4 linked regions of the Homo sapiens genome follow. The protein of the gene in region 1 purifies or fractionates together with the protein of each later gene. This does not show direct contact. Each region holds a gene or a part of one and is shown in the gene's direction. Other genes may lie near its edges. The genes, in order: MAN2A1, IL13RA2, TMED5 and DNASE1L1.

What was found.
Region 2: the proteins of MAN2A1 (region 1) and IL13RA2 purify together in Homo sapiens (co-immunoprecipitation; one large-scale study listed by IntAct). This does not show direct contact.
Region 3: the proteins of MAN2A1 (region 1) and TMED5 purify together in Homo sapiens (co-immunoprecipitation; one large-scale study listed by IntAct). This does not show direct contact.
Region 4: the proteins of MAN2A1 (region 1) and DNASE1L1 purify together in Homo sapiens (co-immunoprecipitation; one large-scale study listed by IntAct). This does not show direct contact.

Annotation. Positions count from the first base shown.
Region 1 is NC_000005.10:109,820,383-109,828,899, forward strand, and holds part of MAN2A1 (alpha-mannosidase 2), read left to right. Parts: intron 1-3,340; coding exon 3,341-3,455; intron 3,456-8,517. UniProt on the Homo sapiens protein: Catalyzes the first committed step in the biosynthesis of complex N-glycans. It controls conversion of high mannose to complex N-glycans; the final hydrolytic step in the N-glycan maturation pathway.
Region 2 is NC_000023.11:115,004,362-115,012,878, reverse strand, and holds part of IL13RA2 (interleukin-13 receptor subunit alpha-2 precursor), read left to right. Parts: intron 1-2,050; coding exon 2,051-2,235; intron 2,236-3,212; coding exon 3,213-3,358; intron 3,359-4,802; coding exon 4,803-4,947; intron 4,948-7,563; coding exon 7,564-7,682; intron 7,683-8,517. UniProt on the Homo sapiens protein: Cell surface receptor that plays a role in the regulation of IL-13-mediated responses. Functions as a decoy receptor that inhibits IL-13- and IL-4-mediated signal transduction via the JAK-STAT pathway and thereby modulates immune responses and inflammation.
Region 3 is NC_000001.11:93,147,257-93,155,773, reverse strand, and holds the end of TMED5 (transmembrane emp24 domain-containing protein 5 isoform 1 precursor), read left to right. Parts: intron 1-885; coding exon 886-1,104; 3' UTR 1,105-6,032; downstream 6,033-8,517. UniProt on the Homo sapiens protein: Potential role in vesicular protein trafficking, mainly in the early secretory pathway. Required for the maintenance of the Golgi apparatus; involved in protein exchange between Golgi stacks during assembly.
Region 4 is NC_000023.11:154,400,736-154,403,495, reverse strand, and holds the end of DNASE1L1 (deoxyribonuclease-1-like 1 precursor), read left to right. Parts: intron 1-114; coding exon 115-227; intron 228-305; coding exon 306-554; intron 555-654; coding exon 655-789; 3' UTR 790-2,260; downstream 2,261-2,760. Other genes in the region: RPL10 (large ribosomal subunit protein uL16), read right to left, coding at 2,473-2,760.

The DNA of each region.
Region 1 (8,517 bases):
ATTGAAAGAGTATTGAGGAAAAAGATAAGTGAGTGTCATTATTTTATCATCTGTTGATTTATTAGGGATAGATGAACTTTTGGTTGCAGTATTATCTATCACCTTATTGATACTTAGCAATTTGTAGTCGAAAGTTAGATAAATGGTTGGGCGCAGTGGCTCACACCTGTAATCCCAGCATTTTGGGAGGCCAAGGAGGGTAGATTGCTTGAGCTCAGGAGTTCAAGACCAGCCTGGGCAACATGGCAAAACCCCTTTTCTACAAAAAATACAAAAATTAGGCATGGTGGCCTGCACCTACAGTCCCAGTTACTCAGGAAGGCTGAGGTGGGAGGATGGCTTGAGCCCGGAAGGCAGTTGCAGTGAGCCAAGATCACGCCACTGCACTCCAGCCTGGGTTGACGGAGCAAGACCCCGTTAGATAAATAGTTTTTTAGAGTTGGAATTTGTTAAGATGCTACAATGAACAATGTTCAGTTAGGATAAACAATGAACATGGGAAGAAACTAGATTTTACGTAGAGTTAGGGAGCTTTATATGTATGCATTTTATACAGACACAAAACCTCTAGCCGTATGGGAAAAATAGATTTTCCACTGGACCATTTTTCTCCTTAACTTTCAGCCCTTTAAAAAACAAATCTTTCTCACTCTTGACTATAAAGGTAGTAATACGCAAACTCTGGCACATTTTGAAAATGCCAGAAACTAAAGAAAACATTAAAATTTACCAACAGGTGCACAATCCCATGAAAACCATTGCCAACATTTGGATGTATTTCTTATTGTCTTTTATTTTATGCATATCCTTTTCTCCCCGTTCTCAAGTCTTGACTTATTGCATGTACATATTTTGTTTTTCATTTGTGACAGTGCTCACAATCTGATGGTATGTTTTTTAAAAATCCAATTTTAATATATACTGTTGTGTTTAAGATGTTGCTTATATTCTTTTTCTCCCGATTCTTCACTACCATAACATTGTAATAAGCTTTCTTTGTAGCATTCAAAAAGAATGCTACAATGCAATTCTGATTAATTGCTGAGAATAACTTTCTAGAAGAGTCATTTTGTATCAGTGTCTGAAGTCTTTTAAGGACTTTTGCTGTGTACTGCTTATCTTCCCTCTAGAAAGACTAGGTAAATGTTCAATCCCACCAGCATTTTTTGAGATTAACTCTAAAATCCCACTCCAAGCACTGAGAATTGGCCATATTACAAGCTTTGCCTATAATAGTAAGTTAGTAGAAAAATATTTTTCTGTTAAGATTTTTGTGGTTACTAGTAAGGTTGAACGTTTTTGTACCTTCATTTATCTTTCATATTTCTTTTGTGATTTTCCTATTTCTATTCTTTGACTGTTTTTCTGTTGGTGTGTCCTGATGATCTCTGAGCACTCTATATGTGGTAAAATTAATCCTTTTCCCTATATGTTGTAAAATTTTTCTTATTGTGTCATTTAGTTTGTTAATTATTTTATTGTATTTCTCATTTATAGTGGTTTTAAATTTTTGTGTAGTCATTTCTTTTTTTTCTGTAGAGTTTCTTCCTTTGCTTTTATACCTTTATAGGTTTTCTATACCTCAAGATCAGTGAAATGTTATCCTAATTATTGTCTTGTTAGCTAGGGACCTATCTCCTGAAAAAGTTACTTTTGTTCCACAAGTTATGAAACCTGCTAACTAAAATCCAATACTGGATTTTAAGGGATTGTGTAGGCTACAGTAAGGACTCTAGGTTTTTTGTTTGTTTTTGTTTTTGGTTTTTTTTTTGGCTGTTTGGGGTTTTTCTTTTTTTTTTTTTTTAAGTCAGTGAAGAATTAAAGACAAACTACAACTCATATGAGGCATTCCAGGATGGGCAGTGAGTCCCAAATATGAGCTGTTTCAGTGTTTTCTCATTCACCAGCTTTTGTCATTGGACATTTTATTTTGATTGACTGTATTTATACTTAAAAAAGTAGTTGTGCTATAGAATTTCATGCGTAGATACCAATAACTAATTTATTTAAAACCATTTTATCTTTAAATAGCTCTAATGTCAGATAGAAAGATAAAACAATTGTCATTTTTACAGAGAGAAAATAAAAAACATCAGGGAAAGAGGCAGTCTAGTGCATCAGAAAAAGGCAAGAGCCCAGAACTCATCATCCCAGGTTCTCATCCCCTCCCTCACTTTCTAGCTATTTGGTAATTAGGTACAAGAAATTTGTAAACCATTAAGCATTTTAATAACTCCAGAAAATTTTCCCTAGCCAAAGAGGTAAATTTGGAAGAAAATTACACAATTCTGAAAAAAAAATTTTTTTTTTTTGGAGACGGAGTCTTGCACTTTCACCCAGGCTGGAATGCAGTGGCGCGATCTCAGCTCACTGCAAGCTCCGCCTCCTGGGTTCACGCCATTTTCCTGCCTCAGCCTCCCGAGTAGCTGGGACTACAGGCACCCGCCACCAAGTCTGGCTAATTTTTTGTCTTTTTAGTAGAGACGGGGTTTCACCATGTTAGCCAGGATGGTCTCGATCTCCTGACCTTGTGATCCGCCCACCTCGGCCTCCCAAAGTGCTAGGGTTACAAGGCGTGAGCCACGGCGCCTGGCCGAAAATCTTACACTGTTTAAGTAGTTCATATTGCAAGCCTAACTTTCTATGCTATTGTTGAGCTAAGGTATCTAATACTTTAAAAATATAATTACTCATAAATGTTTTAAATTTGCTTCCATGTCACATAAGTTATGTGCTTTATTACCATTTTTTAAAATTTAAATAAAAACTAAACTAGTGGTTTCCAAGTAGTTTTTTCAAGTTTGTGAATTTATATTCAGCTAGTTCTTTCAAGTAAAAGGACAGAATGTTTTATAGTTTAGTAAACCGAGCTATGATTAAACTATGTTTCTGAATCCTGCTTTCAGTTTGCTTAGATGACTCCCTGTAGTCATCCTTGCCACCTGTCCCAAACCCTGAACATTAGGGGGCTGGGACCATGGTTATAATAATTATTTACCTGGGAAAATGTAACTTCTGTAGAATGATTGCTGTTTCTAATAAGTAACTATATGGACAAATAGAAGGATTTTAGTTAGAAATTTGTATAGCTGGGAGGAATGCTTTCTAGACCAGTGAAGTTGTAAACATTTTTATTTCCTATTTTCAGCATTTTTAAAAATAAAAAACACGTTCAGTTTTTATCACATGCATATTTTGTTACCTTGTAAGATCTGGTTTACACTTAAAATTGCAAATATCAGGTGATACGTATTTTCTATTTTTGAAACCATAATAAACATATTCTTTTAAAAGTTTGGAAGCCAAAATATTTTTCTTAAATATATTATTTTCTTTTCAGCCTTATGTTTACACAACACCGCCCTTTGTCAGAGTGACACATGGAAGGATTTATTCGGAAGTGACTTGCTTTTTTGACCATGTTACTCATAGAGTCCGACTATACCACATACAGGGTAAGAAAATAGGAATGCAGTTATGAAACATATGTATTATGGTTTTTGAATTCTTGCTTTTCTTATGCCATTCTTAAATTAACAGTTGGTTTTTGTAGATGATGTTTTTCTAAACTTGACATTTTTAATATGATTTAAAATATGAAACTTACCCTTTGATAATAAAAAATGGTAAAACGTTTCAATCCCTACATATACATGTTCCTCTGTATATCTTCTCTTAATTGTTGCCATATTGGTCTTGAGCTCATTAACTGGTAACTTTATTTTTAACACCTGAAAACAATACAGTGTTTTGATTTTATGAAATGGAAATTATATTAAATACGACTTTCAGTTAATAGACCACACACATATATGGGGCCTGCTTCCTTAAATATAGCCTGTATCACTGGAATGTAACTTTAAGAGAAAAATGTTCTAAGCTGGTTCTATTTGTTTACAGCTCTTTACCCAGTAGAGTATAAAACCTAGCAATTGTTTATCATTTTTAGAACAGTATTGAGCAGCATCTTTATGAACCCAAGTGATAGGAAATAGGCTTTTGATCCTTTTGAGAACTTAACCCTGGGCAATGGAACTGATTCCATGGGGTCTGAGTGGAGCTGTGGTTTCCAAAGACTTGCACATTTAGGTTGGTTGATTTAGAATTCATTGTTTGTAGAATGGTGTGCTTTTCCAACTACAGATTTAATCCTAATAACCAGGGTATTTACCATATTATCAACACTCTTAGAAAAAGACCTCATAAAAATGCCATTTAAATTTATCTTTGCTGTTAGCTAAGTTGAACAAATTAGAAAAGAAAAAATACTATTTCCCTGAATCTTCATACAGGTAAAAAATAAAGGATTTCACAAACTAAAGATAAATGTATAGGTAGGCACGGTTTCCTTTTTAGGTATTGTGGGAAAGCAAAGGGATACTATGTTCAGGGAATCTCTTAAATCACAGAAGTTCAATTTTCTGATTTCATAGTTAAATTTAATTTTGCTTTTATTTAACTTTTTTATTAACTTCAAATTTCATTAGTATTTGCTTTTTGTTAGAATTTCAGGTATGGACAAACTTTCTCATGCAACTTCTTTAGGTAATAATATGATAGGTTTTTCAGAATAACCCATGATTCATAGGATGAATCAAGAAGTAAAAGTTCTCTGGCAGGTGGGAAAAATAATGCTAGACACTAATTTTGTGTCCTAAATGTGACTTCTGAAGTTATCTGTGATCACTTTGCTACCTACAGGAAAACCTGTAGTTCTGAAATAATCTTCTATTGAGTTTCTCAAAACTTCTGGTAAGTCAGAAACTGTTTTTGATCATCTGTTTGTACTCTTGTGTAAGCCATTATTTAATACCCCTGAGAGCTCTAAGTTACATCTTCAACTTTATAGCATTACCCCACAGAAGATATGCTGATCTATTTTTAAGTTTGCTTTAAACTATTGTTTTTTAGTGGAAAAGTTTTTCCTGGAGTACAACATGGCACACACTTTGGCACAAACTTGTGTCATCAGGTTTGATTTACCATTGTTTTTCATCAGTTATATTTAGAGATGGGCTATGTCTCAGAGGAAATGCTGTAGCAACTCTTCCTAAAATTCCAACTTCTCAATCAGGTATATTTGCATAATTGCTTTTGCTTTTATTTAATTATGTCACTGTATCTTCTGGGTTTTCCTTGGATTATCCAGGACCTCTAGTTCTCACATCATAGGGCAGTTTGTGTAGACTAGATGGCCCTGTTCTGCTGCTAGTGGCTGTAGCTTAGTGCTTGACTTGGAAATTAATAGGCTCTGACTTGCCTATTTACTTATTTGAGCAAACTACACTCATCAGAACTAAATGCTTGTCATTTTTCCTTTCCCCCTCTCTTCCTGTTTCCCTCTGGGCAGTGAACTGTCCAGTGGCTAATAGTGTTAAGCAGGAGCCCGGGCCACTGAGGTTTGACTGGCTCCTGGCCTTCCAAAGGGGCTCTCAATGTAGCCCATTTCTATTTGCTGGTCTTGCCTCTGCCTCTTTTCTCTTTTTTATTCTTTAGTTTTCTTTCTTTCTTTCCTTCCTTTTTTTTTTTTTTTTTTTTTTTTTTGACAGAGTCTCGCTCTATCGCCCAGGCTGGAGTGCAGTGGAGCGATCTCGGCTCACTGCAGCCTCTGCCCCACTGGTTCAAGGATTCTCCTGCCTCAGCTTCCTAGGTAGCTGGGACTACAGGTGTACACCACCACGCCTGGCTAATTTTTCTATTTTTAGTAGGGATGGGGTTTCGCCATGTTGGTCAGGCTGGTCTCGAACTCTTGACCTCAGGTAATCCACCCGCCTTGTCTTCCCAAAGTGCTGGTATTATAGGCATGAGCCACTGCACCTGGCTTGATTTTCTTTTTTCATGTGTTTCCTTTCTAGATTATTTGTCTTCTCTTCCTTGGTGTTCTCGGGCATATGAAAAAAATAATAAATGATGGATAAATAAGTGTAATGCAAACTTAGAGCGCCTCACTGATGAGTTTTACAGTAGTTGCCTGGATTAAATGAGAAGCCGTCATATATAAACTGGACGTAACCTGTAAATCTTTTTTCATTCTAGTCCGGATCATTTTTTTTTTCAACATGAAAGCAGTTGGTAGGAAATAGAGATACCAGAATCACCTGAAATGCTTTCTTCCAAACTATATACCTTCCCGTGTTTGTATTTGAGCTCCTCTTAACAAATCTCCCTCTGGGAAAAGATAAGCCCGGTTGTGGAGAGAGTCTTTCCTTAGTAATCTTCATGACTCACCTGTCTCTCCTGTTTTTCACATACCATTGCCTGAACACTCGGGTTGTCTCAATCCTGGCTGATTGTGGTTTTAATGAAATCACTAATCAAGGCCCATGATAGATATACGAAGTCTTCAGGGTATTTGGCTCTATCAGCGTTCACGCTGCCTGAAAGGGTGATCAGTCTTCAGGGATCTGTTATTTAGTGCCAAGTCTTCCTTATTAAGAAATACTGGAAAGTTGTTTAACATTCTAAACTTTGGCCTCCTGTAAATCAGACACCTGGATGATTGATCAAAATGCATAGACAAAATGTGGCTTTTCATTTTAGATGCAAAGGAAACGTCAGCCAACTTCCATGCTGTTGTAGATTGGCTTTTAGCTAGTATTGCATAAAATAACAAAAAATATTTATTCTTGAATTTAATTTACTAAACTAGTTTTGGATATATGCTACTTTTGTCCCCCTTAAACCAACCAGATGCAGTTATTTGCATGAGTATTAATGAATAGAGCCTATTTGTTGTTAGTACCAGATTTTCAATCCAGGAAGAAATGAGGGTTTGGGGAGAGAGACTATTAATGTTTTATGATTACATACTGTAATTGTATTAGGTTACTAAACCAGTTAATTATACAAAAGATTTTGTAATCTCAGCAACAAGGAATAAAGAAACAGAAAATGAGTTAGTATTAAAGATTGTCTTTGTTGGGTGTCTATTTTTGTTAAACCTTACAAATCCAATTTAAAAACTAAACTAACGCATACCTGACAAAATATTCTTACATTTCTCAGTCTCTACTTTAGTTGTTCTTTGACCCTTTTCTCCCCAAAGTAACTATTGCCCAAATTAAGCTTCAGGAGAAAACAAAATCAAGAACGACAAGCAACATTTCCAAAATTATATAAACTTTTTGGTCCTTAATGATTTTGAAACAGAGTTGAGAGGCCGTATAGTTCAACCTACTTTTGTTTTTGGTTTGGTATTTAACTTTTGTTTCTCTATCTGCATTCTCTCCAGATTCTGAAAATGATCAGAAGTGCAGTTGAAGGGCTCTCTCTTTCTTAACATCTTTTAAACTAATAAAAGAACACTCTGTTTTCCTTTTCATTATCGTTCAGACATCGCATTCAAAAGGTTTCTAAAAATACTAAATTAGAAGAAATCTTGTGCTCACTAGCCTTAAAAGCTCTACAAGATCAGAGCAGTTCAGAATTTCTAATGAAGGCGTGGCACGGTGGCTCACACCTGTAATTCCAGCACTTTGGGAGGCCAAGGCAGGCGGATCACAAGGTCAGGAGATCAAGACCATCCTGGCTAACAAGGTGAAAGAAACCCCGTCTCTACTAAAAATACAAAAAGTTAGCTGGGTTTGGTGGCACGTGCCTGTAATCCCAGCTATTCGGGAGACTGAGGCAGGAGAATCGCTTCAACGCAGGAGGCGGAGGTTGCAATGAGCCGAAATAGCGCCACTGTACTCCAACCTGGGCAACAGAGCGAGACTCTGTCTCAAAAAAAAAAAAAAGAAAAAAAGAAAAAAAATTTCTAATGAAATATATTGTTTTGCCCATGTCAGGTTTAATAAATCCATTTTATAGCACCCATAATTTAATGAAATGCAATTTATTTCATTTGTAGAAAATAACACTCTTCTGGGGGAAAAGTTGAGGGAGGTGGGAATTAATTTTTCTTGCAGTATAATCATCTTTCATTTAATTGAAGCTTTAAACATTACCATATAGGCTGCTACTTTAGCTTTTTTGGTTAATCTGTAATTAGAAGATAGAATATAATACAAACAGAAGCTCCTGTATCCTCTTGTGTTTTATTTAATACTGCACCTACAAGGAAAGTACATACCTTGCAATAATATAATACCAATAAGTGACATTGTTAACTGTGGCCTTATTTGTCTTCAGAGCTGTAATTATTGGACTTTAGTGTCCTAGTTTCTGATATCAACAGCTACTTTGAAGAATTAGGTCACTGTGGGTAACGAGTATGTCGTGTACATTTCATTGGCGCAAGGACTGTGTTCTCCTAGGCAGGTGTTTGTTAGCGAGTTAGTATGTATGTGTGTGTAAACCATGTTTTAACCCTTAGGGGAAACATCTTAAATGCAATACTTCTGCCCTGTTTTCCACCAACATATTATAAAGTATTATATGTAATGGATCTTACTCAAAGAAAACAAGCAGCCTGGAGGTAAAATGTAATGAACTGACATCAAAAAGTATGGAAGGAAAGACTTTCCTTTGACTGAAATGACTGATTTTCTTGCATATTTAGCAATCGAACAGAGTTGC
Region 2 (8,517 bases), on another chromosome or scaffold:
TCTTTTTCAAGGCTCATCTGCTCCCCAGTTTCATTAACCTTTAACTGATCATGTCAGCTTCTGTTTTGTTTTTCTTGAGCTATTACTTTGTTTTTTTTTTTGTTTGTTTGTTTGAGACAAGAGTCTCCCTCTGTCACACAGGCTGGAGTGCAGTGGTGCCATCTCGGCTCACTGCAGCCTCCACCTCCTGGGTTCAAGCGATTCTCATGCCTCAGCCTCCCGAGCAGCTGGGATTATGGGCGTGTGCCACCACACCTGGCTAACTTTTGCATTTTTAGTAGAGATGGGGTTTCACAATGTTGCCCATGCTGGTCTCAAGCTCCTTACCTCAAGTGATCTGCCCACCTCAGCCTCCGAAAGCGCTGAGATTACAGGCGTGAGCCACTGCGCCTGGCCTTGAACTATTTTTTTTTATAGCCTGTAATTGTTTATTGTCCAGATGGCATTTAAATTTTTTCTCATATATGTGTGCTTTGTCTCCTGTTAAATTTTTAAGGGATTGGTGGGCATGAATTGTTTATTATATTTCTCTTGCCTACCTCCAAAGTACTATACCCGTAGTAGATTAGCACTAAATATTTATTACATAGCTGAAACAAGTGATAGCACTGATAAACTGATAGGTAATTATCCAAACATATGCATTTACTAAATAATGGAAAAATCAAGAGAGGACTAAGCATTACTATTGGTGAGTTCTAGTTCCAAATTATCATGGCATCTTTCTTTAGAAAATAATAATAGATAAATCATAAGCTATAAACTATTAACAATCCTGAGATCTGGGTTCTAATCCCTGCTCTAGCATCATTTAACTTGGCGGCCTTGGGCAAGTAATTTTTTCTTTTAGAATTTTTGTTTCCTCATCTGGAATTGGATAGGTAAATTTCAAAGATCTAAATTATTTGTTCATTAATTCAACAAATATTAAGCATCTTTTAAATGCCAGGCAGTGTTCTAGATAAAAAGGACAAAAGCATGAATAAGAGAAAGTCTCTGCCCTCCTGTACATTGTGGTTCATATTTGATATAATTTGATCCTCATCTTGGTGAAATAGGGAGGAATAAACATTAACATTTTAGAGATTGGAAAATAAAGCCTTCCCTGCTGACATCAAGTAAGTCTGTATGGAGTTAAGCCTGGAACTGAAGTCTCCCAAACTCTAATCAAGTGAACTAACCAAGAGACAACAATTTTGCAAACTCTCCCTAAAGTAAATAGTTGGCATAAGGTTAATTTAGTAGAGTCCAGATATGTGTACAGGCACCTTATCAGCTGCTACATTGGCCTCTTTTCAACAGGGATTTGACTGCTTTTACAGATAATGTCATGGTTTGCATTGCAAGCTATTCTTTAGGAAAATAGCAAGCATTTGTTGCTTTCGAATTTAGTAGGGAATCACTCCTAGTTCCTTTTAGCTTTATTACTGGAATAAGGTTAACTTAAAATGATATGGTAACATTTCTCATTTAATAGATGAGAAAATTAAATATTTACTTGCCAAACAACTCCTTCTTTTTCCTTTTGCCCTCCTACAGTTGGCTTTTCTGAGGTTTATCTCTTGATGTGTATTGTATACTCCAGATTTTCATTCATTTTATTAAACATAATATTTTCTAAGTCTGCTTTAAAATTTGCTTTCTTTTAAAATAACTTCCCCAGTAAAATAACTTAAAAGGCAATATCATGCAGGATTATTTGTACAAATCACAGGTTTTCTTACTAGGAATCTTATTCTTTGATTCACAAACCTTGTTGATGAATCAATATAACCTAAGTACACAAGTAAGAATCCTTGTCTTTGAGATTTTGCGAGGACTCCCAACAAATTGTAAGCTCCATGAAATCGGGGACTATGTCTGCTTTCCCTACTGTTTTTTCCCTATTGCTTATCATAGTGCCTGACATATAGTAGGTGCTTAATAAATATTGTACATTATTAAATGATTTTTAAACTGACATGGTATCCTAATATAATTGAAAATGAAGTGCCTTGATACTGGAAAAGATTGTTATTTAAACACAATTCTCACAACACTCATTTTACAGGTATGAGGGCTTGGATCATGCATTACAGTGTGTTGATTACATCAAGGCTGATGGACAAAATATAGGATGCAGATTTCCCTATTTGGAGGCATCAGACTATAAAGATTTCTATATTTGTGTTAATGGATCATCAGAGAACAAGCCTATCAGATCCAGTTATTTCACTTTTCAGCTTCAAAATATAGGTGATGTAAACCAACAAACAACTTCAAATTCATTGTTTCTAGTTTAGGCCATTTACAACCACTTGAGAGGGTGAGAGAGAGAAAAAGGGGAGGAAGGAGAGAGAGACATAGACAGAGAGAGAGACAGAGACCTATGGAAATGCAAAGACAGAAAAATGAGAGTCAGCAGAGTGTATGAGGTGGCGCTTATTAAATATTTAAGGATGAAAGATAAGAAATTTAATAAAGGTTAAAGTATCATTTTCATTTAGAACTCACAATTTTATTTTCCATCTTCAGTTTGTCTGCTATACAGTACTTTTGTCTAGTGTTAGTGATGGATTAATTATGAAGATACTTCTTCCCAGGCCTCAATAGACAAATGGCTGGATATTTATTGAGTCTATATTTTCAGTTCTAATGGTTATGAGAGTGATGGGTTCTAGAGTCTGCCAGACCTGGGTTTAAATCTTAGATCTACCATTTTTCTAGTCGTGTGACTTTGGGCAAGTTACTCTGTTTCAATTTCCTTAGTAGTAACATGAGGATAACAGAGGACCACCTGATAGGTTTATTGTGAGGCGTGAATGAGATTATTATGTAACATCCTTGGTACTTACAGTGTCTGAAATAGCATAAGCACTAAATAGGGTTATCTATTTGTAAAAGTAGTAGTATTGTTGATTGTGGTTGTTATTTCTAATGCTACAAAATGGAAAATTGTTGTAATGATTTGGGTCTTCGAACTTTTCTCTTGGATTTATATATTTGTCAGTGGGTGACTTGTCAAAAATGAGTTTCCAAAATAACCAAGTTTGTTAATAAACTCATCTTGGTTGGCAAGCAACTTTGATTTTAATACGTATCATAGGGAATATTACTGAGCCACTTGGTTTATCCCTGGAGGTTTCTGTTACCAGATGTCCCTAGCTTTGGATAAAGGCTACTGCTAAACTTCAACAATCTCCGTGTTGAAATGGTTCTCTTTTGCTTTTCAGTTAAACCTTTGCCGCCAGTCTATCTTACTTTTACTCGGGAGAGTTCATGTGAAATTAAGCTGAAATGGAGCATACCTTTGGGACCTATTCCAGCAAGGTGTTTTGATTATGAAATTGAGATCAGAGAAGATGATACTACCTTGGTGGTATGAATATTGCATTTATTTGGGAAAATCATAACTACAGCCTTTTAAATAAAATAGCAAATGTGAGAACCAAAATCAGTTGCATCCACGTGAGGGACAGAACATGACATATATCTTAGTTCAATTTCCAGAAAGCCAAATAAGCTAATGGACAAAAGTATAATGAATGATACCAATTTTAAAGTTACATAGGACCTTAGAGATTATCTAGTCACTTGTTTTCAATTTTGTGTCAATAAATTAAAGTTGGTGAAGGCTTAAGATGGATTGTGGAGAGGCCTCAAGTAAAAGCAAAACAAAATTAAAAAAAAAAACCCACAAAGACCACTTATTGAGGAACAACCATCAGGTCAAAATTACAGTATGGCAGGCTTACAAGAGAATTGCTTGTACCAGGCAAGAAGGGCTGCCTGGGGAATTAGGCAATGGTTGCAAGACTAATTACTGCCACCAGCACCAACAATGTGGTGATGCCTTTAATCACACATTGTTATATATTATTTTTCCTTATTAGTTTCCAGTTTAGAGAGTGGTAGAGAGAAGTTAGTGAGTCAGTAGTTCTAATTCATTCCTTTCATATACAGATAAGAAAACTGGTTGTTGAATTGATGTATAGATCCCAGGTATGTAAATTCACTTACAATCAAATTATGCAGCTAGAACTAGATATCAGATCTGGTTCCCAGTCCACTTAAGTCTACACTACATTATGTTGATTCCTAAGATAAGTTATGCCAAAGGAAAAGCTATTATATTGAATGAGAAAAATTCTTCAGCTCTTTGAAATGCAAAATTGAAATAATTGCTTCAGTGATTTTTTTACTCTGAGATCACCCAGCCTTGAGATAGTCTCATAACTGTAGCAATAGTTTCATACCAAGCCATGAGCACTGTTATACAGGTTTTGTTTCCTTATTCTTATTCCAAGCCCTGAGCATTGTTATGTAGGTTTTCCTTATTCTTATTAACAATCAGAATAAGGAAATAAGCATAAGGAAAAAAGAAAAAGCTATATATTAATATGTGAACTCTATAGTTTCCATAGTAATAACATTCACATGCTGGCTCTGTCTTTTGGTAACTGAGTGTATGTAGCATCTTCCAGTTCATAGAATCTGGGAAATTTGACACTAGTCCACATACTGGGTGTTATAAACACCAAGGCTACCTAGGAATTTTGCTGTCTCACACATGCTGTCCTTCACTGTAAGTGATCCATTATCACTGTAGAAATAAAATATAGATAAAGAAGGGAAGAAACAATGATTTTAAAACCCCCACTATACAGAGAGCTAATTACTGCTGGGATTATGCATCCAGTCTTTTGATGCATAGATTGCATAGATTTTATGTAATAAAACCCACTTTGAAAGGGACAGATATGGAATCTGTCTAGTTGCAACTAGATCAAATAATGGCATCTGATTTTGTCCTTGGCTTTCAGACTGCTACAGTTGAAAATGAAACATACACCTTGAAAACAACAAATGAAACCCGACAATTATGCTTTGTAGTAAGAAGCAAAGTGAATATTTATTGCTCAGATGACGGAATTTGGAGTGAGTGGAGTGATAAACAATGCTGGGAAGGTATGAGCTAAAAGGACAGTAACTAAATAATGAGCTCTTTGCTAGCAAAATTAATTTTCTTTTGGTGTATTTTGTAATTACAGAAGTGAAGGACTTTCCCATATAGTCTATGAACAGAGAGAATAAGTTAGGGAGCACTTCAATTGAATAAAGATTTATTAAAAGTCTAATATTCATTCAGTTAGGACTAGGAATATTGTTATACTTCTATTATCAAAATTCTTGTTTTTCTGTCAATATAGATAATATGCTCATTCTTTTGAGAGATTGGCAGGAACTTATTTTAATCAATATTTTCATATGCTTTCAGTATTCAAGAGAACAGAAATCTTAAAGCAAGTATAGATCAGCATACATTTGTTTCTGGGTGTCTAATACTATTCAAAAGGAATATTTTTCTAATTAAAAGGTCATGAATAGTAAAATACATATTCATTCCATTCACTTCTAACACTGATTTAAAGTGATTTGTGATAAAGTCATTTAAATTACATAGCAATATAAACTAAAAAGCCTAAAGAATGAGGTAAAATGTGATTGTGCTTCACAATGTATTAGCTTTAAGAGTAGAAATTACTAATAAATGTTCAAAATTGAAGGAAATCAACTCAGCATTGCTCTTTCAGGTACATAGATATAGATGCAGCTCTAAATAAATATACTGATGCTGATACAGACAGATACTGCCATATCTATCAATCATTCATCTCCTTTCATGTTGTTCTACTATAGTGGAATCTCTATTATCTCCCTACGAATACAGTGGTATCATTGATCCCTTTCATTCATCAAATATTTATTAAGCACCTACTATGTATCAGACTCTTTTCAAGCATTACAGATATGGCAGTAAAGAAATCTCTACCCTCAGTGAACTTACATTTTATTTCCAATTGGGTAGAGATAGGCAATAAACGAGAAGCCTAATAGATTATATAATCACTAAGGATTATGGAGAAAAAATAGCAAGACAGTGGAAAACTCAACCAAGAGCTATATGGAATCAGAAAGAAGACTTACTAGTTTTATGTTTTTCATTTTTGTTACTGTTTTAAAAAATCAGGAAACTCTAAAGTTATGTCCTGAACTATATCTCGTCATTAGTCAATGCATTGTATAAAGTGGTTATGGTGAGTTTTTAGCCATATCCTCAAAAAATATATTCTTTTCTGTATTTTACATGCAATCTTATCAATGATAGTGATGCCTAAGATTTCTCTTGCTTTGAGGGAAATCTTTTCCTTTTTTTGGTACAGAGTCTTGCTCTATCACCCAGGCTGGAGTGCAGTGGCATGATGTTGGCTCTCTGTCACCTCTGCCTCTTGGGTTCAAGCGATTCTCGTGCCTCAGCCTCCTGAGTAGCTGGGATTACGGGCATGCACCACCACGCCTGGCTAATTTCTGTATTTTTAGTAGAGACAGAGTTTCACCGTGTCGGCTAGGCTGGTCTTGAACTCCTGGCCTCAAGTGATCCGTCCACCTCGGTCTCACAAAGTGTTGAGATTACAGGCATGAGCCACTGTGCCCAGCCCTCTTCATAGAATCTTAATGACTTTGAAATTAGAAACAAGGAATTTCTTGAGTTGCATGTGGTCTCAGTTCTTTAGGACATTTCTTATTGGATGTTTCAAGTTATAGAAAAATAGGACAATAATATTTTTGGAAATAAAAGTATGTCCTCTTCAGGATTGACTCTGTATGGGGAAAGCCAGTAGAACTTCAGCAAAGGAGCTTCCTGCCTTCCCACTGTTAATTTTGCATGACAGATAACTTACATCAGTAATTTCTCTGGATTATATTCTTGTAAATCTTCTCTGAACACGTGAATTTGACTGATAATTTTCTAATAGAAAACAAGATCGTGAGGAAATAGGACAAAGAAAAAGGTGGGATCAAGAGAGCTTTGTAGATGCGTGGCTAAGATTCAAGATCTTTTATATTACTCCAAAACAAGTGAGAGGTACTAGTTTAGGGAGACCAAACTTCGTCTGCTTTTTAAGTTTGCCTAGTGATTGCTCATTTCTTGCTATGCAGAAGAACCATTAAAACTCCATCCCTAAACTAACAAAGCAAAATCAAAAAGAAAAGAAAAACCTTATCCCTCCCTTTGGTCTTTAAAATATGAGACAACTTTAAAAAGGTAACCTTAAAAGATGATTTCCATTACTCACACAGGAATTTTTATTGAAGGATACCTCTTGCTTGGTACAGTATCCTATGATCTAAGTACACGTTTGACTTACTGAGAGTTAAGAGACAGACACACAGGACATGTTTGTTTAATCACTTGGCTAATATTTTGTCATTTTTAAATGGAGAATTCACAAGGTCAAATATAAACAAACTCATATCAGGAAATAAGAATTGTGTTTGGGGAAGTTATTTTTCTAAGTGAAAATAAGACATGTCACAGTTCAGTAAAGTACTTTTCTATATAAAAATTGCACAAATGAAAGGAACGCTATACTCAAACACAATTGTGGTATTTATGCACTGGCAAATATGACAGGGGTTTCCAAGCTCAACTCAGTTCTGAAGTATTTATAAAATAATTCAGTTTCAAAAATAGTGGCAAATGTCTAACACTTCCCCTTTCCGTGTGATTTTTAATCCTAGGTGAAGACCTATCGAAGAAAACTTTGCTACGTTTCTGGCTACCATTTGGTTTCATCTTAATATTAGTTATATTTGTAACCGGTCTGCTTTTGCGTAAGCCAAACACCTACCCAAAAATGGTAAGATGTGTAACATTATGATGTTTAGCCTGAGAATAGGAGATTTTTAAAATGTTCTGCACTTAGAACTGATGGAGATACATTTTATAATTTTGCTTGTTCGCTGTGGGTGTACAATTGATTCCGTATGGATTATGATGTTATCTTCAGAAAATACAGCAATTTTTAAAAATTAAGCTTACAAGACTTCATTTTGAGGTGGATTTACTTTTGTCGAAATCAAACTTTAAACATGAAATACTATTTGGCCCTAGATTAGAGAATGGTATACGGAAAGAGTTACAAGAGAAAAGCAGGATTGGGAGAAATAGAAGAGTGAATTAAAATGATCATAGACTGAAACACATATTACCAGTGTGCCACAGGCACAAGAACACATGCAAATGATAAAGCATGGTGCCTGCCTTTGGAGCACACACTCAAGTTAAGGGAGACAGGATCCATACAAAAAAATATAACCTTTGAGATGATTTTAGATGATTGCCATTTGAGTCGTGCAGATAATGCTATAGAATTTCAGAAAACAATAGGACCACTCTGGGTTGGGGGGCTTTAAGGAGGAGTTGTAACCTGGAGAAAAATATCTTTTTGGGACAGGGTCTCATTCTGTCACTCAGGCTGGAGAGGAGTGGTGCAATCATGGTTCACTGCAGCCTTGGTATCTAGGGCTCAAGCAATCCTCCTGCCTCAGCCTCCTGGGTAGCTGGGACTACAGGCAGGCACCAACATAGCGGGACTCCATCTCTATAAAAAATTTAAACATTAGCCAGACACAATGGCTAATGTTTAGATTTTTTATAGAGATGGAGTCCCGCTATGTTGCCCAGGCTGGTCT
Region 3 (8,517 bases), on another chromosome or scaffold:
AGGCATGGTAGCAGGTACCTGTAATCCCAGCTACTCAGAAGGTTAGGGGGAGGATCATTTGAGCCCAGTTCAAGGCTGCAGTGAACCATGGTCACACATATAAATAGATACTACACTCCAATATAGCAAGACCCCATCTCTAAAAACTTAATCATTTGACCAGGCACAGTCTCAGGTTGCAATGAGCCGAGATTGTGCCTAGGCAAACTCCATCCCCCGACAAAAAAAAAAAAAAAAAAAACCTTAGTCATTTCCTTTGGTTGTGTGAGGACTAAGAAAGAGATAATGTACGTAAAACTCCTGATGCTATGCCACTCAGAATAATTTCATGTTACCTATTTTCAATTCACAGTAGCTTTGTTCCCTTGTTAAATAACTACTTATAAACAATATAAATATGTCAGGAGAACTATTATATAACCTTACAGAGAATCTCTAATGTAATATAAATAGTACCTGCCCTTTAATTGAATTGTGCAGCCATCTAACTTAAAATTGTGTTTGGATAAAAAACATAAAGCATATTTTGAAAAAAACTTTTTTTGAGACAGGGTCTCACTCACTCTGTTGCCCAGGCTGGAGTGCAGTGGCACCATTATGGCTCATTGCAATCTCAACCTCCTGGACTCAAGTGATCCCCCCACCTCAGCCTCCCAAGTAGCTGGGACCACACTTGGTGCTACCATACCCATCTTTTTGTAGAGGCAGAGTCTGTCTGTGTTGTCCAGCCCAGTCTTGAACTCCTGGGTTCAAGGGGTCCTCCTGCCCTAGTCTCCCAAAGTTCCAGGATTACAAGGCATGAGTCACTGCACCCAGCCTCATTTTTTAATTAAGTTAAAATTTCTGAGCATTCTTTAATAATAAAATTATTTTATTTATCTCCAGGAATCCATCAACAGCATCAAGTCCAGACTAAGCAAAAGTGGGCACATACAAACTCTGCTTAGAGCATTTGAAGCTCGTGATCGAAACATACAAGAAAGCAACTTTGATAGAGTCAATTTCTGGTCTATGGTTAATTTAGTGGTCATGGTGGTGGTGTCAGCCATTCAAGTTTATATGCTGAAGAGTCTGTTTGAAGATAAGAGGAAAAGTAGAACTTAAAACTCCAAACTAGAGTACGTAACATTGAAAAATGAGGCATAAAAATGCAATAAACTGTTACAGTCAAGACCATTAATGGTCTTCTCCAAAATATTTTGAGATATAAAAGTAGGAAACAGGTATAATTTTAATGTGAAAATTAAGTCTTCACTTTCTGTGCAAGTAATCCTGCTGATCCAGTTGTACTTAAGTGTGTAACAGGAATATTTTGCAGAATATAGGTTTAACTGAATGAAGCCATATTAATAACTGCATTTTCCTAACTTTGAAAAATTTTGCAAATGTCTTAGGTGATTTAAATAAATGAGTATTGGGCCTAATTGCAACACCAGTCTGTTTTTAACAGGTTCTATTACCCAGAACTTTTTTGTAAATGCGGCAGTTACAAATTAACTGTGGAAGTTTTCAGTTTTAAGTTATAAATCACCTGAGAATTACCTAATGATGGATTGAATAAATCTTTAGACTACAAAAGCCCAACTTTTCTCTATTTACATATGCATCTCTCCTATAATGTAAATAGAATAATAGCTTTGAAATACAATTAGGTTTTTGAGATTTTTATAACCAAATACATTTCAGTGTAACATATTAGCAGAAAGCATTAGTCTTTGTACTTTGCTTACATTCCCAAAAGCTGACATTTTCACGATTCTTAAAAACACAAAGTTACACTTACTAAAATTAGGACATGTTTTCTCTTTGAAATGAAGAATATAGTTTAAAAGCTTCCTCCTCCATAGGGACACATTTTCTCTAACCCTTAACTAAAGTGTAGGATTTTAAAATTAAATGTGAGGTAAAATAAGTTTATTTTTAATAGTATCTGTCAAGTTAATATCTGTCAACAGTTAATAATCATGTTATGTTAATTTTAACATGATTGCTGACTTGGATAATTCATTATTACCAGCAGTTATGAAGGAAATATTGCTAAAATGATCTGGGCCTACCATAAATAAATATCTCCTTTTCTGAGCTCTAAGAATTATCAGAAACAGGAAAGAATTTAGAAAAACTTGAGAAAACCTAATCCAAAATAAAATTCACTTAAGTAGAACTATAAATAAATATCTAGAATCTGACTGGCTCATCATGACATCCTACTCATAACATAAATCAAAGGAGATGATTAATTTCCAGTTAGCTGGAAGAAACTTTGGCTGTAGGTTTTTATTTTCTACAAGAATTCTGGTTTGAATTATTTTTGTAAGCAGGTACATTTTATAAAATGTAAGCCCTACTGTAAGGTTTAGCACTGGGTGTACATATTTATTAAAAATTTTTATTATAACAACTTTTATTAAAATGGCCTTTCTGAACACTTTATTTATTGATGTTGAAGTAAGGATTAGAAACATAGACTCCCAAGTTTTAAACACCTAAATGTGAATAACCCATATATACAACAAAGTTTCTGCCATCTAGCTTTTTGAAGTCTATGGGGGTCTTACTCAAGTACTAGTAATTTAACTTCATCATGAATGAACTATAATTTTTAAGTTATGCCCATTTATAACGTTGTTTATGACTACATTGTGAGTTAGAAACAAACTTAAAATTTGGGGTATAGAACCCCTCAACAGGTTAGTAATGCTGGAATTCTTGATGAGCAATAATGATAACCAGAGAGTGATTTCATTTACACTCATAGTAGTATAAAAAGAGATACATTTCCCTCTTAGGCCCCTGGGAGAAGAGCAGCTTAGATTTCCCTACTGGCAAGGTTTTTAAAAATGAGGTAAATGCCGTATATGATCAATTACCTTAATTGGCCAAGAAAATGCTTCAGGTGTCTAGGGGTATCCTCTGCAACACTTGCAGAACAAAGGTCAATAAGATCCTTGCCTATGAATACCCCTCCCTTTTGCGCTGTTAAATTTGCAATGAGAAGCAAATTTACAGTACCATAACTAATAAAGCAGGGTACAGATATAAACTACTGCATCTTTTCTATAAAACTGTGATTAAGAATTCTACCTCTCCTGTATGGCTGTTACTGTACTGTACTCTCTGACTCCTTACCTAACAATGAATTTGTTACATAATCTTCTACATGTATGATTTGTGCCACTGATCTTAAACCTATGATTCAGTAACTTCTTACCATATAAAAACGATAATTGCTTTATTTGGAAAAGAATTTAGGAATACTAAGGACAATTATTTTTATAGACAAAGTAAAAAGACAGATATTTAAGAGGCATAACCAAAAAAGCAAAACTTGTAAACAGAGTAAAAATCTTTAATATTTCTAAAGACATACTGTTTATCTGCTTCATATGCTTTTTTTAATTTCACTATTCCATTTCTAAATTAAAGTTATGCTAAATTGAGTAAGCTGTTTATCACTTAACAGCTCATTTTGTCTTTTTCAATATACAAATTTTAAAAATACTACAATATTTAACTAAGGCCCAACCGATTTCCATAATGTAGCAGTTACCGTGTTCACCTCACACTAAGGCCTAGAGTTTGCTCTGATATGCATTTGGATGATTAATGTTATGCTGTTCTTTCATGTGAATGTCAAGACATGGAGGGTGTTTGTAATTTTATGGTAAAATTAATCCTTCTTACACATAATGGTGTCTTAAAATTGACAAAAAATGAGCACTTACAATTGTATGTCTCCTCAAATGAAAATTCTTTATCTGAAATTTTAAAAGACATTGATTCCACATGTAAGGATTTTTCATCTGAAGTACAATAATGCACAATCAGTGTTGCTCAAACTGCTTTATACTTATAAACAGCCATCTTAAATAAGCAACGTATTGTGAGTACTGATATGTATATAATAAAAATTATCAAAGAAAATTAACTGCCAGTCATTTGTAAATGCTGTCTACTCCTGAAAGCCTTCCTTCATCTCTATTTAGTTAATAATGTGCTCTCTCCTCCTGTTTTGAAACCCCATAGCTCTCTACACCTCTTATTGTACATCACTCTACTTTGCATTGGAGTTCTGTTTCTATATGTACTTATTCACCTGTTGCCTAAACATGCACTGTTCCTAAAAGGTACAGTTTTTGCTCAAAATATATGAAAGGAAAGATAATCAGTTCTTAAAGTTTGGTATGCTAAATAAGCACCCAGGGAACTTACCTGCTCCACCTCACCCCAGAAATTGATTATTCAGGTCTGGAATATGGCTCAGGATTCTTAATTTTCAACCAACACAATATAGAATCCTGTCAGTTATCCTTGGATCATTTGCTAAGTGATCTTGCAAAATCAAAACTCCTTTGAGACTATTTCATTTTCAGAAATATTTTAAAACTTGTTCAGAAACATCTTAAAACTTGTTAGCATATAGGAAAAGTACAATGCTTGGTGTAGGTAGGTTATTATTTGGTCATTTCCCTCAAACCATCCAGACAAGCCACTCTTCTACCACAAGCTGGTAGAAATCCTTAGGCACCTTTCTGCTTCTGCACTGCTATCACTTTCAGGTGTCTAAGGCTTCTGGAAGGCTGTTGTCATAACCTGGAGCCATACACCTAATGTACGTCTGGGGAAAGGACACCAATTAAAGAATCTAGAGCTAGGATGATGTTACATAAGACAGGGCACAATGGAGATGGACTCTGGATCCCTGCATCTGAAAGAAAAAGGCAAGAAAATGCAGGGCAGGGAAAATCCTGAAGGTCTTCACTGACCATGAATTAAAATCCTAATTGACAGTTTTACAAACAAAAACCCTCGTTTTAGTACTTGTGTTGTTTTTGTTTCTGTTTTAACAAGCTTAGATTTATTATTGTGCCTTTTATGGAAGATGAGGAAGAAATAGGAAAGCAGTAAAATGAACAATGAGAATCTGTTACCCAAACTGATATAAACTCCCTCAGAAAGAAAGATACTACTCCCTAATCCTGGAAGTGTTAAGTGGCAATAATGATCAAATGTTGTAAAGGGGATTGTTACTACAGCTAATATGAAATGGGAGGCTGGACTAAATCTAACCTTTCTACCCTTGATTTCAATTCTAAAAGGACACGTAATACCATTGCAGAAAGAAAAGACAGTTCCAAATGATAAATTTTAGAGTTGTTTTGCTAGGATGCAAGAGAAATTGGATAAGTGGACCACTCATACGTTGCTGGTGAGATATGAAATAGTAGAGCCACTGTGGAAAATATTCTTGGCAGTTTCTTATAAAACTAAACATACATTTAACATATAACTGGCATTTGTACTACTTGACAGTTATCCCTGAGAAGTTAAAACTTAACATTCACAAATGTTACATAGCACCTTCATTTATAATAGCCAAAACCCGGAAACAACCTGGATGTCCTTCAAAAAGAGTGAATGGTTTAGTATGTCCACACCATGGAATACTAAATAGTAATATGAAGGAACAAACTACTGATACATGTAACAAATTGCATGGACCTCAAGGGAATTATGCTTGGGTGGTTTGGGGGGACAATCCTAAAGTTTTACACACTGTATGATTCTGTTTTTGTAACATTCTTAAATAATAAAGCTATAGAGATGGGAAACAAGATTCGTGGTTGCCAGGTCTTGGGACTGAAGGGAAGGAGAATGTGGCTATAAAGGGAGCCTTGTGGTGGAAAAGTTCTGTAGTTTGATTGTGGTGATTACATAAATATACATGTGAAATGTTAGAAGTATTTATAGCTGAAACATATTAGTATGTTGGTATATACATATTTCTGACTAATTAATTTCGCCATGTTGCCCAGGCTGGTCTCGAACTCCTAAGCTCAAGTGATGTGCCCGCCTCAACTTCCCAAGTGCTGAGATTACAGGCGTGAGCCACCATGTCCGGCCTGTTTTTTCCTATGCATGCATAATTACGATCAAGTTTAATTTGTAATTAGGCACATTAAGAGATTAACAATAGCTAACAAAATGGAACAATTACAACAATATATTGTAATAAAAGTTATGCAAATGTGGTTTCTCTCTCTCAAAATATCTTGTACTCACCCTTGTGAGGCTGTGAGATGTCATACAATGCCTACATGAAGAGATGAAATGAGGTGACTGATGTAGGTATAAGTGATGTAGTTAGGCTACATTATCATCAAAATAACTTCGGGTAATCCTGGATCACTGAGCCAAGGTAATGTTGATGGTTAAGGAGCAGACAATGTTGATGGTTGGGGATCCTCAATAGGTGAAGGATTTCTATTTTGGGGTCTTTTTGCTGAAAAATTTTGGAAGAACACTGTAACCAGAAGTTGTTGACTCTTCAGCTCATCGAAGTGTTGCTGCAGAGACTGTAATCCTTTGGTGATCATATTGGTAACTTTAATGCTGTGTCTCATCTGAGGATCGTATTCTATAATTCTGTTGTTTAATGTCTGTGCAATTCAAAACACTTCGGCAAGTTTAATTAATGTCTATGTTGGCTATTCTGCTTCAGTTTTTTTAATCTTCCTCTCCCTCTGCAGATGACTCAAAAATTTCTTCCAATTCCTCATTTGTTAACACTTCGTGATGGCCTTTGATATGCTCTTCATCAAGCACATCAGCAAATCCTTCACAAGTTCTGTGAAGGATTGTCTTGTCTTGCTACATGATTTAAACTTGCCATGGGTCCCTAGGAAGCCTTTAAATCATATATATAATTCCACATTCTTCCAGCAGGTATTTACCTGTTTCTGGTTTTAATTCATCCACTGCAGCTTTGATGAATGTTATCACATGAGCAATAGTGAATGATATCCAGCACTGCATTATATACGTATTAGGGTCTGCAGCAATTGCTGACCAAATGTGTTCAAATATCAGGCAGTTGTATGTGGCCCTGACAAACCGAATGATGCCCTGTTCAGGGACTGAAGCAGTGAGGTTTTATCTGGAGGTAAAAATACCACCTCAACATTTTCATTTTCATAGCAGACAGATTCATGTATTGTCCATTATTAATACTTTAAATTCTAACCCTTTCTCTTTCAAGTATTTTTGCACTTCTGGGATGAAGCACTGGTGGAACCATTCCATAAAAATGGCTGTCACCCACACTGATTATGTTGCCAAGACACATAATATTTTGTTTTGTTTTCGAGATCATGTAGGTTCTTCACTCTATACACTACACCTCGCTTTATCATATGCCCTGCAGCAATGCCATATAGTACCAGAGTTAATCTGTTCTTCCATGCTGTATGCCCTGATACCGCCGCATTTGCACTTTTATGAATCTAAGTTCTATTGGGCATCTTCTCCCAGAAGAGCCTGATGTCACTGCAATTGAAGACTTGCTTTGAATGGTATCCTTGCTCCTTAACTTCAACTCTGCCGGAAATGAGGCAGCAGCTTCTTCATCAACAGACACAGCCTCTTCAGTAATTCTTAAATACTTCAGTCCAAACCCATTCCTGAATCTGTGTAACCATCCCTTATTTGCAGCAAATGGCTTGGTATCACTCATTTCAGGAGATCCCTTGCTGAATGTTTGTATAGGCTCAGTGCTTTCGCGGCAACACCCTGACGTCAGCTGGAACACATTTCTTTCTGTTCGTGTCTTCCACCCACAAATTTAACCCATTTATACCGGAGGTTGCAAAATCTGTGAAAAATCAGACCTTGGCAATGACCTTGAGCAGCAGGATATAAATAACTCTCACAAGCTTAACGTTCCAATAATAAAACACTAGGCATAAATGGGCTAATGCCTTTTTCATCTTAAAACTAGCACGAATGTTTTTTCTTCACAATTTCATGAAGATCTGTTCTTACCTTAGATCTTACCAATCTCTGCATATAATTTTCTTCTCAAGTACTTTCACCTTTTCAGTTTATGACTTAATGACTTATCTTTGGCATATCCAATTGCCATCATCTCTACACTTATACCTTGGGGCCACAATAAAGTAAAATAAGGGTTACCTGAACACAAGCACTACAATACTGCAATAGTTGATAGGATAACCAAGATTATTAAGTGTCTAATGGTAGGTAGCATATACAGCATGGATAGGCTGGACAAGGGGATGACTCTTGTGTGAGATTTCATTACGCTACTCAGAATGGCATGCAACTTAACACTTGAATCCACAGACAAGAGGTGACTACTGTAATGTCTTTGAAAATGCTAGGCCCTCAAATATTGAGTGACACGCTCATTCTTGACTCCAGGCCTTATTCTGCTCCTTCATGTTGAAACTAGATTTTCTCTTATGTAGCCTCTATTCAAGCTAACCCATCCTTCAAGGTAAAACCTAACAAATATTGCAGTCCAGATCAATCTCATTTCTCCAGCAATACAGCACATATTTTGATACCTGTAGTCATCTACTGTTTTCAAATGTTACTTAACAATTACGCTTATGTCCTAACTCTCCAAGACTGTACTATTATACTATAAACAATACTTTCACCACCACCCCCCCAAATTCCACCTCCTTGATTTTATGCTATAAAATACACTATCCT
Region 4 (2,760 bases), on another chromosome or scaffold:
TGTGGGAGCAGAAGGGGAGTTCTGGCTGGCTCCACTGGGGGCTTCCTCACCCAGACGGGCTAGGGGGAGAAGGTCCAGGAGTGGATGGCAGCCCTCGGTCCCTGGGCCTTGCAGTCCTTCCCAGCCTGGTGTTGGTCCCGCTGCACACCACTCCTAAGGCCGTAGAGAAGGAGCTGAACGCCCTCTACGATGTGTTTCTGGAGGTCTCCCAGCACTGGCAGAGCAAGGTAGGCCTGGGCAGTTTGTACAGGAGGGACAAGGATAGGGTGGCCCAGCGGCCAGCCTGATGGCTGCTGTGTCTCTAGGACGTGATCCTGCTTGGGGACTTCAATGCTGACTGCGCTTCACTGACCAAAAAGCGCCTGGACAAGCTGGAGCTGCGGACTGAGCCAGGCTTCCACTGGGTGATTGCCGATGGGGAGGACACCACAGTGCGGGCCAGCACCCACTGCACCTATGACCGCGTCGTGCTGCACGGGGAGCGCTGCCGGAGTCTGCTGCACACTGCGGCTGCCTTTGACTTCCCCACGAGCTTCCAGCTCACCGAGGAGGAGGTGAAGGGATGGGGCTGGCATGAGGAGGGAGGGCAGCAGCAGGGTCACAGGGAAGCCCCTCGGCCCCGGGCACTGACACTGCCCCACCACCCATTCCCAGGCCCTCAACATCAGTGACCACTACCCCGTGGAGGTGGAGCTGAAGCTGAGCCAGGCGCACAGCGTCCAGCCTCTCAGCCTCACTGTTCTGTTGCTGCTATCACTCCTGTCCCCTCAGCTGTGCCCTGCTGCCTGAGCGTCCCCCTACCCCCCCAGGGCCTGCTGCCTTTTGGGACTTAAACCCCAGCCTCCCCCGTCCATCCAGCCCTGGGGCTGGGGGGCTTCAACTATAGTTGCCCTGTGACTGTAGTCCACCCCTGCCTGCCTTGTTTGATTTGGCTCTTGTTCTTTGGTTGGGCTTGTGCCTAGATTAGGAGAGGAAGCCAGGGGCCCTGCACTCATGCCACCTGCCAGGTAGTGTAGTATCAGGAGTGGAGACAAAGTGGGCTCTGGGTTGGGGTAGGGGAAGGGAGGGTTCAGAAAGAGGAATGAAGATGTTGTATGACAAGAAGGAAAGTTACTGAGAACAAAAACCCAGATTGGTGAGATAGGACACTTGTGCAGCAGATATGCCAATGGGCCATGTTTATTGTGGATTGGTAAGAATCACCAGGAAACCATTAAGCCCCAATAGCTACAAGGAGGGTGGTTAATCTGCTATATCAAACTCCTTCCCTGAAACCAGCAAACACCGGGAAACATTTTGGCTCATTATAATCCGGTGAACAATGCAGTCAGGCCTGTTATAACCGCTGAGCAGCCACACTCGCACCTCCTGGGTGCTGTAGTCTGTGTTGGTACAGGCTTCTGCATGCCTGGTAAAGTCCAGCCAAGGCTGGTCAAGGCAACATCTCCACACAGAAAATCTGCACCAGTTATGTAAGCTAAAAAGCTGTGTGAACCCAGGTGTCCCGGAAAGGGGCTGCAGGACACAGCAAAATGCCAGCAGCATGCCGGACCCCTCCCTTCCATCCTCCTCTCCAAAGAAGAGAGGTCAGGAAAAACACTGGCTGGGACGCTAGAAGGGTCATGTGTTAACTATAATCACATTTATGGTTTGGAACCATCACCCCAAGGTAAAAAAAAAATAAAAGGTATTCCCAGGTATGTTTGGCAAAATAAAATAAAGGTAATTAAAAACCTAAGAAATGGCTGTAAACTGAGATTACAAAAAACCAGAGGCCTTTTGGGAGCCACAGGCTGGGGGCTGGGGCCAACATACCCCAGCTCTGGGACCAAAAGCCTTTGGAGTCCTGTCCCTGGATACAGATGCTCAGGCCACCCACCTAGCACTCCTCTCATTTTTGCTGCTCCCCCAAAAGCCAGCGCTGTTCTACAATAGTTCAGGTCAGACATCTAAGATCCCCAGGCCAAACCATGCCACACACGTGTCTGTTCCGAGGTCTTGTTACAAATGACCAAAGGTTAGCCTAGACCTTTGGTCAGGTGGTGAAGGCCCTGGGAATGCAGGTTCTAGAAGGGGTGGGGGCATGGGGCCCAGGAGGTTGCTAGAGATAGGAAATGGGGCAAATCGCAGGTGACCTCAGCAGTACCTGGATGATTCCCACCAAGGAGGAATGGCCAAACCAGATGGGTGAGAACAAGCCCAATGTGATGCACACCTACCCTTGCTAAATAAACGCTGCTGGTCAGCCTCTAGCCCACAAGCCCCTCTTGGTCCGCATGTGTTGTAATAAGCAACACAACTGTAGGCTGACCCCAGCCTGGGATTGCAAGGCTTTGCTGCAGCTGTGCTTCATGAAAAGCACTTCAGTGTTTTTCAACCTACTGCCTAGGACCTGGGGAGGTCCAAGTCAAGCTCCAGAGTAGACAACTGACATAAGGCCACCAGTCCCAGCCCTTTGCAGGGTTTGCTGCCTCATGAGCAGGGCTGAGTTGTCAACCTGTTTCTGAAGTGAAAGGGCAATGACCCAAAGGTTCCCAGAGGAAGTTCCTTCCCCGTCAAGAATGTAGATACAAAGACATAGGTGGACAGGAAGTAGAATTTATTGGTGAGTATTAAGAGGGGGGCAGCACATTGGAAGCCCTCATGAGTGCAGGGCCCGCCACTTGTCCAGAGGGCCACGACTGGGGATGTACTTGACCCCACAGCCATCTGGGATGAGCCGCTTTTCAGCCACCATGTCTTCAAATTCATCAGCATTGA